Linked DNA regions of Homo sapiens: region 1 is linked to region 2. A link means that fine-mapping ties the variant in region 2 to the expression of a gene that starts in the linked region. Tissue or cell type: cerebellum. Region 2 holds a variant in brackets; the other region holds the start of a gene. All regions are shown on one strand. Distances are between the middles of the regions.

Evidence for each region. PIP is the estimated chance that this variant, and not a neighbour inherited with it, causes the effect.
Region 1: it holds the start of LINC00836, and the variant in region 2 is fine-mapped to the expression of LINC00836 in cerebellum (GTEx, PIP 0.92).

Annotation. Positions count from the first base shown.
Region 1 is chr10:25,646,829-25,657,248 of GRCh38, forward strand. LINC00836 (long intergenic non-protein coding RNA 836) reads left to right here and starts at 4,884. Exons shown (of 3, transcript NR_108068.1): 1 at 4,884-4,971. It also overlaps the pseudogene GPN3P1.
Region 2 is chr10:25,685,375-25,695,794 of GRCh38, forward strand. The region is part of intron 1 of LINC00836 (long intergenic non-protein coding RNA 836); the gene reads left to right. It also overlaps the pseudogene HIRAP1. Among named protein-coding and RNA genes, the nearest start is that of LINC00836, 39 kb to the left of the region's middle. RefSeq lists an enhancer at 8,717-9,217. The variant T/C (reference allele first, on the strand shown) is at 5,817.

The DNA of each region.
Region 1 (10,420 bases), 39 kb before region 2:
ATTAGAAAATATGTGCTCAAATCCTTATATTTTTGGCAGATTGCATTCACCACTCAGAAATTAATGTCCAGGGAAAGTGTCTTTCCAATATTTCAGGTGTACTCTGGATCAGTAAAGATATTGATACTTTCTAGATATTGTAAAGCAGAAAATAGATATTAGCATAAAATGAGCAATGTAGAATGCCTTTTAAATTGAATAGGTACTTTTTTCTGTTAAATCAGGAAAGACCTTAAAATTATATTCCCTTTTAAATTTTTTAATTATATAAATAATACATTTTCAATGTAGGGAAATGGTAAGATATAGATGGGCAGTGGTCTTACCTATATCCTTCCAGATATTTCCCTCTGGATAGACATGTATATTTTGTTACAATAATTCCTGCACCTCAAAAACAATACAAACAGTAAAAATGAGATTGTATTAGCCTTATTAACTGTTGCAGAGGTGCTAATTTATATACAATTCTATGTGCATTCATTTCAATTTTGACTTTTAAATTTAAATTGATACGATCAAAATAATACTACAAGTTTCCACGTGAAGCAGCAGCAGTTTCAGAATAATTCAAAACTTGATTCAGGCATGCTGCTGATAAAAAAAAAAAAAAAACATGTACCTTTTTTTTCATTAGAATATGCAGCTTTCTACTACTGCATTCTTCGAAGAGAAGAATATTCTGCCGGTTTGGCCACAAGCTCTTCACGTATAGACAGTTACTCCTTAGTAAACTCTTCATTCATCCTGGTGTTCTTGAAAATATTCCTCAAACATAGAAGAAGATTCATTTTCATATTCCTTTGGTTATTTAAATGTTGAATCTTCTCCACATTGAATGGCTAAATCAATATGCTATAATACAATGTTCATACTTTCTTCATCTGACTGATCATAAGGTAAGAAGAGAACTATGCTGCAGTCATCAGCCCACATACAACTTTAGTTACTTTTTTGAATTCTTTGCTTCTTAAGCCACTTGTAGAATCATCAAATAAGGAATCCATGTCTAGATCTAGAAACTTACAGTTTCCTTTTTAGCTTTTTTACTCTGCAGCTACATTTTGATCACGATGTTAACTTGCGGAATTTATAGAGAGAGCATGGCACTCAGGACTGCCAAGATGCCAGAAATACACTTGAATGACTCCACCATGAACTGAGGATCAACAAGAAAAACTCCATAGACTCGGAAACTCCACTGCTCGAGCTGCAGGACCAGCTGCTTCATCACAGTCAGGTGAATGTACAACTCAGTCCAAGCTGGACAATCAAAGCTGGCAAGGGTATTACCAATTACTAATGGGATTGTAATTGTCCTAGTCCTTTTGAAAGCAATTAAACAATATGAATCAAAAGCAATACAAAGGTTCATACCTTTTACACACCTTTATGCTCTATTTATGAAATTATAGACTAACCAAATGTTCCAAAAATATGGAAAAATTATATGCATGAAGCAGCACCTCGGATCATTATTCATAACCGTAAAGTATTGGAAAAAACCTACAGCGCCAACAATAGAAAAGTGAAAAATGAAATTACAGAGCATCCACTCAAATATTGTCAAGCCTTTTTAAAATTATGGTTATAAAGACTGTGCAAAGGCATGAATAATGCTCATGACATATTAAATAGTGACTCAAGCTTTATAATTATTTGTCTAATGATTTCAATAAAATATAAAAAGAGAATACTCACTATTACTAAGACCGACTGTCTAAACTAGGTTGCAATTTTTAATCAAGAGAGTGGCAGACAGAGTATATGTGTGATATGGTTTGTATCTGTGTCCCCACCAAATCTTGTGTCCCTATAATCCCCAGTGTTGGAGGTGGGGCCTGGTGGAAGGTGACTGGATCATGGGGGTGGATCCTTCATATATGGTTTGGCACCATCCCTTGGGTGCTGTTCTCATGACAGAGTTCTCACAAGATCTGGTTGTTTAAAATTCTGTGTCACCTGCCTAGCCTGCCACTCCACCTCTTCTTGCTCCTGCTCTGGCCATGTAAGATGTGCCTGCTTCCCCTTCACCTTCTGCCATAATCGTAAGTTTCCTAAGGCCTCCCAAGAAGCAGATGCTGCCATACTTCCTGTATAACCTACAGAACTGTGAGTCAATTAAACATCTTTTCTTTATAAATTACTCAGTCTCAGGTATTTCTTTATGGCAGTGCAAGAACAGACGAATGCAATGTGCATAGACTTTTCCAAGACCTTGGAATGTATTATGTGAAGGCATATTATTAGTCAGCGAAGTAGAACCACTAGAAGTAATATAGATTAAAGGATTTGTTATAGGGGTTAGATTTTTACAAAACTATGTTGCTGGTGGAGAAGTCTGTGCAAGGCTGTTGTCTCTGTGTCTGATGTTGAACCTGAAGTCACTATAGAATAGCCAGCCAGCAATTGGTAGGAAAGCCTGAGTAGATGAGGGCAAGGACATACTAGAAGCTGAAAGGACAAGCGAGTGCTTGAGGACAAACTTGACCCAAGTCCCTTGGCTTGGGCTTTCTGTCACTTGCAATCTAAGGAGTTCTAACTGATAAAAGTAGATCAGTCTTGGCCTTGGAATAATAAGTCTGATTATGTTATAGAAACTTCACTATGACTCCACCTAGCATTAAAACCCATGGAGCTGAGTGACTGACAACCCCTTCCAGAGACCAAATGGGCAGAATCTGGGAAAAACTGGGAAGACCAAAGGAATTAAAGACTGCAGCATGGAGGAGAAAGCAAGAATAGGAACCTTGAAAAGTGGCAATTTAGTAACCTTGAGGCTCTAGATCGAAGACTCTTCATGGCCATCGAGAAACCTGGAATCTGCTGAATGGAGTGTAGAAGTCACTCTCTAATCTCCACCTTCTATGCGTTCTCTGTGGGTTAGCAAGTAGAATGGAAACTTAACCCTTGGTGAAAAGCTGCTTTGTGCATTCTTCTAGACTCTATCTGTGTTTTTGGCCCACGAGGATAGGCATGGTACTGGGGTAAAACATTGTGGTGACAACTAAGGCTAAGTGTTGACTGATACAGCCATTACCTACTGCAGTGTACATGCCTCCAATTTACATTTGTTTGAAAATTCCTATATAAAGAAACTAAGTAAACAAAGCACAGGTCTTGATAAATTCACAGTTGTGTGTCTATACTGCCTTCATATCCAGTTGAAAAATGGTCAACACATCATAAATGATTTCATGCTGGACACAGTAGCTCATGTCCATAATCCCAGCACTTAGGGAGGCTGAGGTGGGACGATTACTTGAAGCCAGGTGTTTAAGATCATCCTGGGCAATAGAGGCTGATCTCTGTCTGTACAAAAAATAAAAAATTAGCTGAGCATGGTGGTGCACACCTACAGTCCCAGCTCTTGGGAGGGTGAAGCAGGAGGATCTCTAGAACCCAGGAGTCGAAGGCTGCAGTGAGCTATGATTGTGCTACTACACTGCAGCCTGGGCAACAGAGCTAGGCTCTGTCTCTAAAAATAAAAAAATAAAATAAATTTAAAAAGAAAGGAAGAAGAAGAAAAAGAAAAAATGATGTAGCAGAATTTTCCCTGCCAAATCCACCAGTTAATAACCTATTGTTATATCTTGAAAGTTATGTTGGGATTATTTCCTTCTGAAATGGACTTCCTTCCATTCCACCTTCTATCCCTGTGTATTTTTGTTCACCAAGACTCTTATGAGAAAATTCTACTACAAATATGCCATTGTTGGGGAGAGAAAAGCTTTCACCTCAGACTCTCTAAAACACCGGCTTATGTCTGCCCACCCCTCTGAGAAGTAAACATGATTTGTAAATAAAAGCCACCCTGGGGCTCACATGAGATCAAAATTTATCTCCACAGTTTTCATGTTATGTTATTATCCTAATGTTGCCTTAAGACTCTCAAAAATAACACTTTAAAAGATCCACATTTCTCATATCTAAAGGAAGTTTGTTATTCCTTTGTTTGCACCCTACCTTGTTAGAAAAAGGATTGGAGGAAGCTTTCTGTGATACAAAAGATAGAAAGAAAGAAGGGAAGAAAGAAAGAAAGAAAGAAAGAAAGAAAGAAAGAAAGAAAGAAAGAAAGAAAGAAAGAAAGAAAGAGAAGGAAGGAAGGAAAGAAAGAGAAAGGGAAAGAGAGAGAGGGAGAGAGAGAGAAAGAAAAAGGAAGGAAGGGAGAGAGAGAAAGAAAGAAAAAAGGAAGGAGGGAAGGAAAGAAAGAAAGAAAGAAAGAAAGAAAGAAAGAAAGAAAGAAAGAAAGAAAGAGAGAGAGAAAGAAAGAAAGAAAAAGAAAGAAAGAAAGAAAAGAAAAGAAAGAAAAAGAAAGAAAGAAAGAGAAAAAGGATCAGATCAGGTCAGAGAAAAAACAATGGTTAAAAAAATAACTTGTCACTAGGGTAAGAATAACATGCATAATGCATTTTTTAATGTCCTGATAAACTGAGCTGTATATTTGTTTCATAACTCCCCAGCTTCCACAGCAAAAATAGAGAACTGATAATTATCACTATTTTTATTCTTTATGGTTGCTCAGGGGGAAAATTTTTAAAGGGGACATTACTGGAATAAGGTTACCCTTCTGTCACTCACATTTGATTACTCATAGACTTTTCTATTTGAAGACGCATTAAGGAAAATTTTCCTTGCAAACAAATGTTGTCAAATGAATTGACCAACATGCATACCTGCCAAGTGCCCAGCATCCTCAAGTACCTATAGGACATTAACTCCAGTAGCCTGTGTAGCAAAGTAGAATAAAAATAAAGTTACTGGGAATTCAGGATTGATAATATCTCTGATTTGTATATTTCTGCAGCAGTCAGTCTCTTTCAAAATATGGGAACAGCAAGTTAAAATAAACTGTCTTATTGGCAGAACAGAGTGTGATCATGAGATACTATTCAGCTTTTATGCTGATTCATCAGCTCACAGTGAAACGAGCTTGCATGAGAGCATCCCAGGACCACTGAACATTCAGAGGTATGTCCTCGCATCTTAATTTTTTTAAGGTAAAATGAGATTTTCATAGAATAAGGATACAGCTGATAAATAGCAAGTCTAAAATTACATATACACTAGCCTACATTTAAGAATATCTTGGCTAATTATTCCTAAGTCATTGATGTTTTTGTTTGTCTTTGTTTTTTACTATTTATTTCCTTTGCTTTACAGCTTTATTGAGTCATAATTGATGTAAATAAACCATCCATATTTAAAGTGTATTATTGATGAGTTTTTACATAATATACTTCCATGAAACCATCTTCAGTCAATGTAATGAAACTTTATATCACTCTCAGAACTTTCTCTTACCTCTTTCACACTCTAATTATTGTTTTTAACCTGCCTGTTCCTATTATATAGCAAATAATTTGCTTTTTAGAATCAAGATCATTATGATGCAATGAATATTTATCATTTGCTCTTTTGAACTGTGTTTGATGATTCTGTGACTTTTGTAGGTATCACAAAAGGGATTTACTTTCATGCAGAAAACTTAGGCTCAGCAAATGAATCCATATTTACGAATTTATGATGGGCTGAAATGGTAGGAAGAACTGGCCAGTCAATCTTGGACAAGAGTAGAACATTTAAAATGAAGTGGAGGTGATGGTAATGGGGGTGGGGTTGTACCACTTCAGTATAAGGAAACTGCAAAGAAAAAAAAACCCACCTGATTACTATGGCGGGGGTCGGTTCATCATTACATCATGAAAGGGGCAAATAGTTTAGAATATGCTAGGGGCTGGTGAAGAATTAAAGAAAAAAAGAGGGAAGAATGAAAGGGGGTAAGGGAAGAAGGGGAAAAGGGAAGGAACAAATAAGATATTAAGAGTAAAGGGAAAAAGACAAACAGAGAATACTGCAGTAGGGCTTTGAGCTAAAAGACATACAGTGACTTTTGTGATAAAGAAACCAAAGAAGGTCGTGAAATGGGTATCCAAAAAAAAAAAAAAAACGGGCAGCCTGTGGCGCTGCGGCTGGATAAAGAACATCAGGGACAGGAAGGCTGTAATAAGATTCCACCACCATCTCTGCCCATCACTAGGGCTGGAGGCAGAGAAAAACTTCCCCTACTCAAGAAAAAGAAGCTATTTTTGTCAAGTTAAATGAGCCTGAACCTGCAGAGCTGAATTGGCAGATGAATATTGCTAATTGGTGCAGTTTCTTCGGTGCAGGAAAGAGTTTCCAATCAGACCGGCAATTCATTGGCCACATGAAGGTAATTTATTAATAAAAATGAACTGAAGTTTCAGAATCCTTGATAATGATGAGCTCATGGTCCTTCACCTCCCTTCCCTTCCCTAGAAAGAACACCCTACAACAATGATGCCTCAGTGATATCTTCTCCAGCCCATTCCATATGTGGCAACATTTCAAGTGGTTTTTTTTTTTATTAGGAATTTCTACATTTAGTTGTCAAATCAAGCTGCTCTAAATGCCTAATTCTGATTCTCCCTTCATCAACAGACTTTTTGAGGAGTTCCTGATTCAAAGTAACCAGGAAAGTCTGCTAACTGCAGCTTAATTCTGAAAAGTGAAGGGGAAAACAAAACAGGAGAAACAGTCTCCCTTTAAAAAAAAATTAACTTTATTTTTCAGTTTAATAAATTTGACAAATGTATCCTCCTATGTAACCATAACCACATTAAGACATGGAGAATTGACCTCACCCCAAAGAATTCTGGTTTCCTTTGCAGTAACCACTCTCCCCAGCCCTGGTCATAGACAGCCATTGGTCTCCTTTCTGTCATTGTAGATTAGTATTGCCTTTTCTAGAATTCCATATAAATGAAGTTATCTGATGGCTTTTTAAAAAGTCAGTTGAACGTTTTTTGAGATTCAATCTGTGTTGCTGTACATCATTAGTCCATGCTTTTCATGGCTGAGTAGTATTCTATTATATAAACGTACTCCAATATGTGTATCCATGGGCATTTGGGTTGTTTCTGTTTTAGCCCATTAAAAATCAGATGGCTATGGGTATTAGTGTCCACGTATTTGTGTGGACATATGTTCTCATTTCTCTTGGGTAAATGCCTGGGGGTGGGATTGCTGTGTCATATAGTAAGTGTATTTTTAACTTTATAAGAAACCATCAGCTGTTTTCCAAACTGACTGTACCACTTTACATTTCCATCAGTAATGCCTGAGATTTCTAGTTGCTCCAAACCAGAGCCACTGAAATGGGTATAAAGTGGTATCTCATTGTTTTAATCACATTTTCCTAATGACTAGTAATGTTAAGTGTTTTTTCATGTGTTTATTGGCCATTCGTGAATTTCTTTTTGTGAAATGTTTGCAAAATCTTATGCCCATTTTTAAAAATAGGGCCATTTTGTAACTGTCCAATGGGTTCTCCTTGCCTGCTGCCCAAGTAAAGGTGATTTATCAAGGAGTTTATCCTTTGCATGCCCAGGTAAAGGAATTGCAGTAGAGAGGGCTTAATTCACTCAGAGCCACCTGAATGGGAGACTGGAGTTTTACTACTCAAATCAGTCTCCCTGAAAATTTTGAGACCGGGGTTTTTAAAGGATAATTTGGCAGACAGGAGGCCAGGGACTGGAGAGTGCTGATTGGTTAGGTCAGAGATGAAATCACAGGGGATCGAAGTGGGTTTTTCTTGTTGTCTTCTGTTCCTGGGTGGGATTGCAGAACTGGTAGAGCCAGATTACTGGTCTGGGTGCTAGCTGGTGGATCAGAATGCAGGGTCTGGAAAATATCTCGAGCACCAGTCTTAGGTTTTACAATAGTGATCTTATCCCTAGGAGCAATTGGGGAGGTTCAGCATCTTGTGGCCTCTGGCTGTATGACTCCAGAACATAATTTCTAATCTTGTGGCTAATATATTACTCCTATAAAGGCAGTCTGGTCCCCAGGCAAGATGGGAGTTGATTTTGGGAAAGGGCTGTTATCTTTGTTTCAAAGTTAAACTATAAACTAAGTTCCTTCCAAAGTTAGTTCAGCCTATGACCAGGAATGAACAAGGGCAGCTTGGAGTTTAGAAGCTAGATGGAATCAGGTTAGATTTCTCTCAGCGTCATAATTTTCTCACTGTTATAATTTTTACAAAGGTAGTTTCAATTGGTCTTATTATTGAGTTGTGAGAGTTCTTTATATATTATATATTATATATTATTTCTTTTTTTTTTTTTTTTGAGTCAGGGTCTTGCTCTCTCACCCAGGCTAGAGTACAGTGGTGCAATCATGGCTCACTGCAGCCTCAAACTCCGGAGCTCAAGGGTTCCTCCCACCTCAGCCTCCTGAAGTGTTAGAGTTACAGGCATGAACCATGGTGCTTGGACAATATATTCTTTGGTCTCTTTCATGTAACTGAATTTAAAATTTTGATGAAGTTCAGTTTCTCCATTTTTTGTAGTTTGTCCTTTGTGTGGCCTGAAAAGCTTTGCCTACCCCATAATTGTGAAGATCATTGTCTATAATTTCTTTTAGAAGTTTTATGGTTTCAGCTTTTAAACTTAGACCTATACTCCATTCTGAGTAAATTTTTGCATGTGACATGAGGAACTCATTGAGGTTCTTTTTATTTAATCAATGTCTATTCAATTATTTGGGCACTGTTTATTGGAAAGACCATCCTAACTGAATTACCTTGCTGCCTTTATAAACAATGAGTTGACCTGTGGTCTACAGGTCTATCTGTATGCAAATACTGCATTATCTTGATTACTGTTTGCATTAGTCAGTTCTAATTAGTCAGTTGGCTGCCAAAAGAAATACTTGAGACTGGCTATTTATAAAGAAAAGAGCTTTAATTGGCTCATGACTCTTCAGGCTGTACAGGAAGCATAGCGGCTTCTGCTACTGGAGAGGCCTCAAGAAACTGAAAATCATCATGGAAGGCCAAGGGGAAGCAGGCTCATCTTACACGGCCAGAGCAGGAGCAAGAAGGGAGGAGGGGAGGTGCCACACACTTTTAAACAATCAGATCTTGTGAGAACTCACTCACTATACAGTACCAAGTGGGGATGGTGCTAAACCATTCATGAGACCTTCTCCCCAAGATCCAGTCATCTCCCACTAGGCCCCATCTCCAACACTGGGGATTACAATTCAACATGAGATTTGGTGGGGACACATGTCCAAACCGTATCACTGTTACCATACAGGACATCTTGAAATCAGATGGTTATATCTTGAATTTTTATTCTTTTTTTAACTCAAAATTATTTTGACTATTCTATGTTCTATGTTCTTAGCATTTCTGTATAAATTTTAGGGTCAATTTGCCAATTTCTACATCAGAAGACCGTTGGGATTTTGATTAGCATATCGTTCAACCTATAGACCAATTTGAGTAGAATTGACATCTTAACATATTGAGTTTCTTGTTCCATGAACATAGTATATATCTACACTTGTTTATGTTATCTTTAATTTCTTTCAACATGTTTTGAAGTTTTTAAAGCACAGATCTTGCAAATATTTTATTCTTAAATAGCTCATATTTTTAGATAATATGCTAAATAGTGTAGTTGATCACATTTTATTTTCCAATTATTATTACCAGTATATAGAAGCACAACATAGTTCTTATATTAAATTGAACCCTATGACTTTGCCAAGGTCATTCGTTCTAGTAGATTTTTGAAGTTTTCTTATGATTTTCTATATAAATGATCATGATGTATACAAAGATATACATTTTTATTTCTTTCTACAACTGTATGCATTTTATTAATTTTTAAATTTTAAACATTTAATTTTTGTGGATACATAGTAGGTGTACATATTTCTGGACTATATGGGATATGTTGATACAGGCAAACAGTGTGTAATAATCACATCAAGGCAAATGGGGTAACCATCACCTCAAGCATTTATCCTTTGTGTTACAAACAATCCAATTATACTCTTTTAGATATTTAAAATGTACAATTAAACTATTTTGACTATAGTCACTCTTTTGTGCTGCAAATACAAGATCTTATTCATTGTTTCTCACTATTTCTTTGTATCCATTATTCATTCCCACGTCCCCCTCCCAATCCCCCAACTACTCTTCCCAGCCTCAGGCAACCATCCTTTTACTCTATCTCCATGAGTTTGATTGTTTTAATTTTTAACACCGACAAAGAAGTGAGAACATGCAAAGTTTGTCTTTCTGTGCCTGGCTTATTTTACTTAACATAATGACCTCCAGTTTTATCTACGTTGTTGCAAATGACTGGCTCTCATTCTTTTCTATGGCTGAATAGTACTATATTGTATGTGTGTACCACATTTTCTTTATCCATCCTTCTGTTGATGAACATTTAGGTTGCTTCCAAATCTTGGCTATTGTGGATAGTGCTGCAATAACCATGGGAGTGCAGATATCTCTTGTATATACTGATTTTCTTTCTTTTGGATATATATCTAGCAGTGAGATTGCTGGATCATATGCTGGTAGCTCTATTTATAGTTT
Region 2 (10,420 bases):
CTCCCCCAGACTGTTGTCGATGCCCTGTCACAAGCCTTGTCTCAACCAACCTCCCATCTTGAGCACCCGCTAAAGGCCATTCCCTTCCTTAGCTTTGTCCTGGTCTCTGAACTTTGGCATTCATAGTCTATATCCACCCTTTTATCAAATATAACTTAGGATGACTTTGTTTACATATGGTTGAGCTTGGCTTTTGCATGTCCACATACTCTTATTTTATACTCCCAGTAAAACCTTAATATTACCCCAGGTACTTATAGCTTACATTGCATAAAGAAAGAAGAAAGTAGGAAGAAAGGAAATCAGGAATTACATAGATAACAAGGCTGTGTAGTTAGCCACCCCCTCCCCATGTGGGGCCTGAATTACGTGATTGAGGGTGATCAGTCATTTAACTTAAGAAGCTACAATGTTTCATGTAGCTTTCTTGTAGAACAGCTACAGACTCTAAATATTTCATTTTTGACATTGATAGACTAGGAGAGGAAATTATCTCCAGGAAAAATGCCATGCATGACCAGGGTTAATGATATGGAACACACCCCACAAAGATGCTTTGCCTTTGGGTACCAGGACTTCAAATCCTACACAATGAAGGTAGGCAAATTTCTTCTTCCATCAGCCCCAGATGGAGAGCCCAACTTTATGGATAATATTTTATCCCCCTCCTTTCTCTCTCCTAACACACACATTTCCACCCTGTAGCCCACCCCACCCTACCCTGTCTCACTCTTTAATCCTATTTCTATGTAGGATTCTGTTATTTGCATTCCAGAGAAATTTTTTTCCTAACAAGTATAAAGTGAAGAAGCTATTCTTTATGATGAAAGGATACAAATCTTTCTCAACCTAGATGTTTCTAATACTCTTCAGTGAGGGTCTAAAGTGGGAAATGATTTAAATTAGTCTTCAGTGAATTTCTCCCCAGCTTTCTCAACCCAAAGGACAGAGCAGCAACTTAGCTGGTTCTCACAGGATCCAATGTTTGTTTGTTTCAGATCAAAAATGAAACCAAGAGAGAAAAGAAACAGTGCAGTTAGCAAAAAAAAAAAAAAAAAAAAAAAAAAAAAAAAAAAAAAAAAAAGCAGGGATTCTTAATCTTGAGGGTGCGTGAAAATACTGTCGGAAGAGGAGGCATTTCGATCTGCAGCCCTGCCGTGCTGGGTTTCTGAGCTCTGCTGCTCTCTTTCTCTGGGTAACAGGAGACTTGAAGACATCGCCCAGAAGGTAGAGCTTCAAATCCTGTTCTAGGGCCCAGAAGCAGAGGTATGGACCCCACTCCTGAGTTAATTTACTGTATAACATATGGTATTTAAAAACTTTTACTAAAATCTTGTTCCTATGCTTTGTGGTCAATGTCCAGGCTAATTTGGGAATCGGGACTAACCAACTGATCCCACTGGTGAACAGAGAAACTCAAGAGTTCAAGGCAAGGCCTCAAGTCCAGCAAAGTGTAATACCCTTGAAACCCCAAATCCTGGTGGGCACTGGTGCGTCCCACTCAAGGGTCCAGATGCTCATTTTTGCATGGATACACTGTTGAGGATTTTTCTGCCTGGGATGCCTTCCCCCTCCTCCTCACAGCCCATTTTTTTCTCCACACATCATTTCTGAGTCTATAATTCCTATAAAATTTTAATATCCAGCTTAAATGTTCATCTCTCCATAATTCCCCTGTCTGAACCCTTTTTGTCCTTGGTCCAAAATAACTTGAAATGATTTTCTTCTATGGAAATTGTGGGGTTTTTTCCCATTATGTAAGTGCCTTGACTCAATTTGATTTATTACTTCAGCATCTATGTAGTAGCTTTCTGTGCTGTGTGTTCTTCTTCTATAAATGGGGGATGATAACAACAGTACCTTCCTCAGTGAGTTGCAGTGATGTTTAAATGAGTTAACAACATAAATGGCAACAGAACCAGATACATAGTAAATGTCCAAAGAAGTTAGCAATGATGACGATAATGTATATCGTTATAATAACCCCATATACCATTGGTAAATATTTTGGAATGAAAGAATAGGTAAAAATAATTATCAATTACTTTGAAGCATGGGTGACTTGAACACCCAGGCCCAAGTTCCAGACTCCCCTGAGGATTGCTTCATCATCACTGGGCTCACCTAGAGTCTGGGAGTCTCTGTTGTTAGGTTCATGCAAGATCTCCAGGTCTTGCATGCTTGTTAGATAAAACCCCACATAGGGTTAAACAGAAGACCCAAAGACAGGGAACTCTTCTCAGAAGGAAAGAAAATTGCCATTAGTTTTATTGCTGTGGTTTCTGCTGCTGTGGATGTTTTTTAAATTATCTAATTTTGAGAGCCTGGGAAATGACAAAGAGCCCGGCTGTCCAATTATAACACTGGTTGTGTAAACCCAGGAGACTTGGAGTCTCTTAAAATTTGTGTAAAGAAGGGCTGATCATAATCACAATACATCACCACTGATGTGTTTTGTTTGCATGGTATCATTTGGTTCTAGTGATTTTTTCCTGCATTATTCTAGGTGACATGCTATCTCTCCATCAAAACAGGGAAGTGAAGCCTTGGAGGGAATATAGTAATCTGCATTTCTCTTGTATCCATTCTTTCATAGGACTTCACAGACCACTGGATCTCACGCTTTGGTGAGAGCATCTCATGAGGACTTTGCTATCAAAGCAGATTTTAGAACCCATCCGCAGGCGTTCAGACTCAGTGTCTCTGCCTCGAAATAGGCATTTTAAACAAGATCCTTAGGTTTTTCTAAGGCAGGCATCTTCTGGTCCTTGTATTTCAAAACATTGCTTTTTATGGACATATAGGAATACACAGAGGCATACATGCAGTTTAACTGGAAAAATATTAAGTTTAACTGTCATTTATACATTCATTACAACATATTTCATTCACCAAATATTACCAAAACTTAGGATGTGCAATAAAGATTCAGAGTAAAAAAAAGTCCCTCCCATCATGGAGCTTAAATTCTTACTGGTTAGAAACAATTCATCAACAAATAAATGCACATCCACTTATACATGTGCATGTATGTTTGTTTATTATATATGTAATATGACATCATATACACTAAAGGTTATATATGTGTAGTATGGCATTCTATATAGTATATACTATATAGACAATATATACATATACTATATACTATATTTACTATATATATTATATATAGGCTATATAATATATACTATATAGTATATGCTATATATACTCTATATTACATGTAGTGTAGATACTATATTAATACTATAACATAACAAATATAATACTGTTTTATAGTATATTTATATATTATATATAGTATATTATAGGTACTAGTATAGTACATTATATTAGTATGATATATAGTATGTTAATACAGTAAATTATATATAATATAGTATAGAATACTATAATACTATATATAGAATACTATATATACTACATAGAATACTATAAGATTAAATACTATATATTATAATGTAGTATGCTATATATCCTATACTATATATAATATTATATACTACTATATATAGTTTATACAGTATATATGTTGTATGCATACTATATATACAGCATATATAACATAGTATATATTATAGAGTGTATATATACAGCATATACAATATGTATATATGTATAGTATATATGTTGTTTATACTATATATAGTTATTATTCTTGTATTAATACATTATATTAGACTTTACATAATGTCTATATTTGTGTCTATATACATGTATAAGTCCATATATAGGCATTATATAAATATAGCATGACATTATATATTCCATATATGAAGTATGACAGTTGATGATAATTTCTTTAAAGGAAAAAAAGCAAGTCATAGGAGATAGAGGGATCATTTAGGTAGAGTGACAAGGAGACCTTTCTGAAAAGAGGCGTTTGAGCAGATTTCTAAAAGAATGAGTGAACAGACCCCAGAGCTGATGAGAACAGAGCCCTGCAGGCAGTGGTAAAGCAGGTGTCATGCCCTGAGGGGGCACTTTCTTCAAGTGATGATGGAAATCAAGGAGGCCAGCCTGGTTGTGGTGGCAGAAACAGGTGGGAAAGGAATGGAGGTGAGTCAGAGAGGGGACAGGGACCAGCTCATGATGGGCCTTGCAGATGACAGAAAGGACTTTGGCATTACTCAGAGCAAGGCGGGAAGCCACAGATTGCCCTGAGCAAGGAAAACTGTGACAAGACGTGTTGGAAAGGATCACTCAGGCTGCTGTGAGGACAACACAGATGAATGCCAAGAAGCTGATGGCAAGGCCCCAGTGCTCAGGAAAAGCCAGGCAAAAGCTGCAAGGCATCCTGGTCTCATCAGAAATAAGTCAAGGAGAGAAAATGCAATCCCCGTGAAATGAGCTTCAGAAACACACATCAGAGGCTATTGAGAATTCATGACATCAAAAGCAATTTTTAAAATTCAGCATAGTTTTTTTAATCCAAAAAATATATATCAACACTCCCCCATGCCAACACTCCCTTTGAGTGAGGCAGATTCCTCAGGATTCATGTGGCAGCCACACATGAGCATATGAAGGGACAGAGAAGCCACCAGCTGGTTCTGCCTGACATTCAGCTTCTCCTGCATGAGGCTAGCTTTGTTTTGGCCAAGAAGTGTCCAATGGGACATAAAATCTGAGCAGAAATGTGTCCCAGAATCTTCTGTATTTCCTTCTCCTCTGCCTTTGCCTTGCTTTCTTCTTTTCCTCTCCTTATGCCTCTCTTTCTCCTCCTTCTCCTCAGAAAATCATTGTTTTGAAAAAAAAAGTGCACACTTTTTTGAGGAATCTAAGCAATGCAAAAGTACAAAAAAAGAAAGTTTTTTTGTTTGTTTGTTTTTTTAGAAAGCTTCCTCATAGAAACAATCATCAGTAGCATTGAGCAAACTGATAGGAGATTGTAAAAAGTTTGTGGCTAGAAACAAAACAAATGCATTACCTTGTGGTTCTGTAGGCCACAAGTCTGTTGTGGGTCTCACTGGATTAAAATCTAGGTGTCTGCAGGGCTATCTTCCTTTCTGGAGACTCTAGGGGTAAATAGGTTTCCTTGCATTTTCTAGCTTCTAGAAGCCTCCTTTATTCCTTGGCTTGTAGCCTCTTCTCAATGCCAGGAACGGAGCATCTCCCTGACCTACTTCCATGGATCTATCTGTTTCTCTGAGCATACCCAAGGAAAGGTTCCCCACTTAAGAGAACACCTTTGATTACATTGGGCACACACAGGTAATCCAGGATCATCTTCCCATCCCAAGGTCCTTAACTTTAATCACCTCCACAAAGTCCCATTTGCCAAGTAAAATAACATATGCACAGGTTCTGGGGATTAGCATATGGACATCTTGGGGGAGGTCATTATTCTGCCTACCAGATTGATAGACCAAATGCTTTCATAAAAATGCAATATACTATTCCTGTTATTTTAAAAAAGTGCTCAGTTTTACCTAAATCAACAGATTTCAGAATTAATTATTGCAGAGACATCCTTCAGTCCTGCTGCGTGTGTTAAATGGCAGATGTAATTACAGAAAGCTAAGAGTCTTAGACCAAGGGTGAAAAATCTGCATAGCAATGAAACAAGATATTATGCAAAACTTATGTAGTGTTAAAATAAGCATAATGGGATGTCCTTTCGTGAAATGTCAGCTAATTTCTTTAAACAGATACTTCCTTTTTCTCTGGGCCTCATCATCTCCCCAACCACCACCACCAAAAAAAAAAAAAAAAAAAAAAAGTGTAAGCTAATCTAGTTTTAGCTTTTAGCTTTTGAGTTTCCAAAGTTTAGCCCAATGGGAATGGAAAGAAGTCAAAACATATACAACATTGAG[T/C]AACAGCCAACTCCTCCTGCCCTTTAAGCTTCTCACTCATTGCTGCCATGATGAGAGGAAGTCCTATCAGCCACATGCCAAGATCCACTAGAAGAGAATCAAAGGCCTTATCAGCCAAGCCCCAGTTGAGCTCCCAACCAGCATTTAGCCAGGCTAGTGAGGACACTTGGAAACTTCCAGACATCCCAATGCTCCAGCCAACATCACATGAAACAGAAGAGCTATGCGGTGGACCTACAAAATCGTAAGAAGAGATATATCACTAATGATTCATGCCATTGGGTTTGAGTGTAGTTTTTTAATGCAGCAAATAAATAAATAAAACTGTGTAAAGATGCTGGTGAAAACCAAGACTTTGATGAACGCAGAGGAACAATCTAGGAGCTCAGGTCCAGCTTGATAGATGATGGAGACCACCTCACATCTGCTCACACCATAATAACTGTGCAGGTCATCCAGGGGGGTTACTAGAAAACCAACATGGATTTTGTGGGGACACAAAAGACAGTAACTGTGAAATTCAGCCTGCAGACGTCTCTTCAAAAGGAAGCAGTAGATTGGGGGCACCATTGCCTCCAAGGCTGTGTGCATTGACACCAAAGACAGTTCCCTCTCTGACTGGCTGGCCTTTTAAAACGACCTCTGATTGTTATGCATAAGCTTTTGGGTAATGCTATCATGGATAGTACCCGGAACCTGATGGACGTGACATTTTGGCCTTCTCTCCTGATGGTTCTGTAGCCTTTCTTAGACTTCTCCAGGGATGAGCTTGAAGATCCCCCAGAGTGATAAGAAAGTCACATTTTTAAGTTCACTTATATTAACAGTTCAGCCACAGTTAGCTACTGAAGTTCAAATTTCTGTGACCACTTTGGAAAAAAACAAGATCCTAAGAGGATGGCAGAGAGAAGATCCAATGCCTCTATCAAAGTAGCAAGGATGGCCAACCGGGCAAGTACAGAGGACATCACAAAGAATCTTGGAACAACAGGTTGGCTCACAAATGGCAGAAGATCAAGGAAGAATTAAACCCATCTGCACTGCCCAGATGGTCTCTGAGTTCTCCACACATCTGTACCAGCCCCTCCTGCCACATGGAGTCCTGGCAGGCTGTGAGCTCTCCTCTCACACAACTGGCTCTAACATCCTGCAGTGAAGTGGCACCAACTCCCTCAGGCCCCCAGACTCTCGCAGGGCCTCCAGCACTGCCTGTCCCTGTGAGTCCCTTAATCTCTTGTTGCAGAATGTGGCCTTTCAGCCCACAATACCAATTCTTGACAAGAGCAATGCTTGAGGGGGCTTTGAATTTTCCTCACTCAGGAATTTAACTCTTTTTTGAATGTAATCTTAGACAAAGTCATTTACTGCTGAGAGCCACAGGACACAATGGGACCAGGTGTAGGAATGGTGACTTTCCACAGGGCTCCTTGAGGAAGCACCTGCCAGCTCAGATGATCAGAGGCAGCTTCTGCTTTGTCTCTGAAGGACGATGGGGTTAAGGCTCTCAGCATTAACCTTCAACAGAGCCACATTGTGCCTGATAGGTGTGGATCTATCTTCAAAGGAGAGAACCCAAAGGGCCACTGTGGTTTTCAGGGGAGAAAGCTGCAAGATTTGTGGCTTCCGTGCTAACATGCAGAATCTGGCTTCCCAGAGCATCCTTGTCTGATCTCAGCCTTAACATCCTTGGACGCTTTCCACTACAACCCTAGACTAGATCCTGGGAATATTCCCAGGATGATGTGGCTCTGTATTGGATCACAGCCTACTTCCACAGAGTTCTGGGGGCTGAGGGGGTTGTGGAGTGAGTAAGGCCAGATCCCCTCAGCACTTTGCTCACCAGCACAGCTCAGCTTTCAGGAAGAGACATGGTCCTGTCCCTGAACAAGGCAAAGCTGTAACCATTAGGTGAATGACCACATGTAGATGAAAACTATTAAGGTTTTATGCAGCTAAAAATCTGACCCAGGACCTGTGTGAAAAGGAAAAACTGTTTCAACGCTGGCTTTTTTTCTGTCTGCTAGAGTTTACTGCCTCATAAAATGGCATTTTCCCTGGGTAACAGCTGAATTGGAGTCACTTGTAGGAAATTTAAATTCTAATTGTGATAATTAGGTTGTAAAATAAGCATAGCAACATTAACTTATCCATTATATTTTGTTTTCAATTTTTAAATGGTTACAAAATTAGCCTTAAAAAACTGTTATTTTCAATTCTGGGGGTACATGTGCCGGTTTGTTATCTGGGTATATTGCATGTTGCTGAGGTTTGGGGTGTGTGTGATCCTGTCACCTAGGAAGTGAGCATAATACTCAATAGTTTTTTTTCTTTGTTTTTTGTTTTTGTTTTGTTTTGTTTTCTGATGGAGTCTTGCTCTAGTCGCCCAGGCTGAAGTGCAGTGGCATGATCTCAGCTCACTGCAACCTCTGCCTCCTGGGTTGAAGCTATTCTCCTGCGTCAGCCTCCCGAGTAGCTTGGATTACAGGAGCCTGCCACCATGCCCAGCTAATTTTTAATTTTTTTAGTAGAGACAGGTTTTCATCATGTTGGCCAGGCTGGTCTCGAAGTCCTAACTTCAGGTGATCCACTCTCCTTGGCCTCCCAAAGTTCTGGGATTACAGGCATGAGACACCACACCTGGCCAATAGTTTTTCAATGCTTGCCGCCGTCCTTCCTTCCCCCATTTTGGAGTCTCCAGTGTCTATTGTTGCCATCTTTATGTTCATGTGTATCCAATGGTTAGCTCCCACTTAAAAATGAGAACATTTGGGTTTCTGTTCCTGCATTAATTCACTTAGGATAATGGCCACCACTGCATCCACATTGTGGCAAAGGACATGATTTTGTTCTTTTTTATGGCTGTGCAGTATTCCATGGTGTATTTGAACCACACTTTCTTCATCCAGTCCACTGCTGATGGGCACCTGGGTTGATTCCATGTCTTTGTAAAAATAGACTTTTTTTTTCTAAAAAGAGGCAAAATTGGTGTGCAATTCTCAGTGAAATTGTGAAATAAATGGACACTGTATTGACACTGACCAAAAGTAAAATCTAGTGATGGGATGTGCTAGATGAGGGAGTCCTGGGGGAAGGCACAAGGGCCCGAGGACATGAGGAGAGTGGAGTGGTATGCAGCGAATTCTCTTGTGCTGGAGGACAGGGAGCAGCCCTCTTGCCGACCTCACCTGGAAGTCTCAGGAATTTTCCATCCCCAGGTCCCCAGGCAATGCTGGGAGGCCTGTGAAAACTTCCAGGTTGGAGCAGAGGGCAGGGCCAGCCACACCTGGGGTGGGTTATGAGAGGAGAGAGAAGGGGGGAAAGGTGAGTACAGCCATCGTAATGATGCAGGTGCCTCCAGCCAGATCCCGGTTCTCACGGGCAGCCGGTCTCAGCCTAGCTGACGTCGACCCAGAATCCCACGCTCTCGGCTTCCACCCAGCCACTGTTAGGCACGAACAGGGCACCCCAAAGCTCTGCATGTCTCTGAAAAGAACCCCATTCCCTGCCCCCAGCCCTGAAGCTTCGCAAGCACTGACCTTGTTGAGGCCACGGAGGCATCTCCTTGTGCCCTCTCTCCCATGTGACTCCTATCCACAGGAAGGCCTAGACTCCATGTCACCCCAACATGTGAAGCCCCTCTGCTACCCTGACCCCACCTCCCATCACCCTCGACTTTTGAAACACTGCCACCACACCCTTTGGGATCACAGTCAGTTTTAGGTAAAATCCTTGTATCCTCAGCCACCTCTCTGATGGGTCCCTTTACTGTTTTGCTGCTCTGAGGCCTCTGCCTCTTATGGCCCCTCGAAGGGGCAGCTGTTTCCTCTCCACATCCCACATTGGTTTTGGGTGTGCCCCTCACAGTGACTAAAGACCGTGTTTCCTCTTCCCTCTACAGTCCTCACATTCTCAGACTACCACCCACCACCCCTCCTTGCTACGTCCCTTTATGCATCACTGAGTTGAGCTCCTCTCATCTCTCAATAAGGTTAGCACCTCTTCCTTGACACAGTCTGTTCAGTGCCATCCTCATGAGGCTCCTTGGTGAGTCAGTGACCACAAATGCCCCCTCCAATCCCCTGGCCTCCCTTCCCTACCTTCCTCTCCTCCAGTAACCAGTTCTTCACCTCCTGCAGCCTCTCCTTCCACCATGCTCTGCCCTGTGTCCAGGGCCACCACCCCTCCACGATCCCAATTGCAAACTCTCTACCCTCTCACCATCTCTTCCTTTGTTCCAACACTCTTAGTTGACTATCCCAGATTCAAGACTTCTTTGATGCTCTTTTGACTTTTTGTTTTCCACTTGGCTTCAAGGGCCCTGCACTCTTGGGTAGAATTTGGACAGATCTAGATACCTGGGGAAAGTTTTAAAGTTGTGTATGTGGAAAGATCGGTGGGGAAGTGGGGGTGATTGGAGAGAGTGAAGATGGAGCAAAGAGCTCACAGAAAGGGTCAGAGAAACATGTGCTCAGTTTGCCATGAGATTGAGGCCCGCCTACCTGAAATTAAGAGAAAACAATCTGATAAGCTTGAAAAAGCCCAATGTAATCAGATTAAATGTAGGGACCTGTGCAAGATCCAATTCAACAATAAAGCGTTCCCTG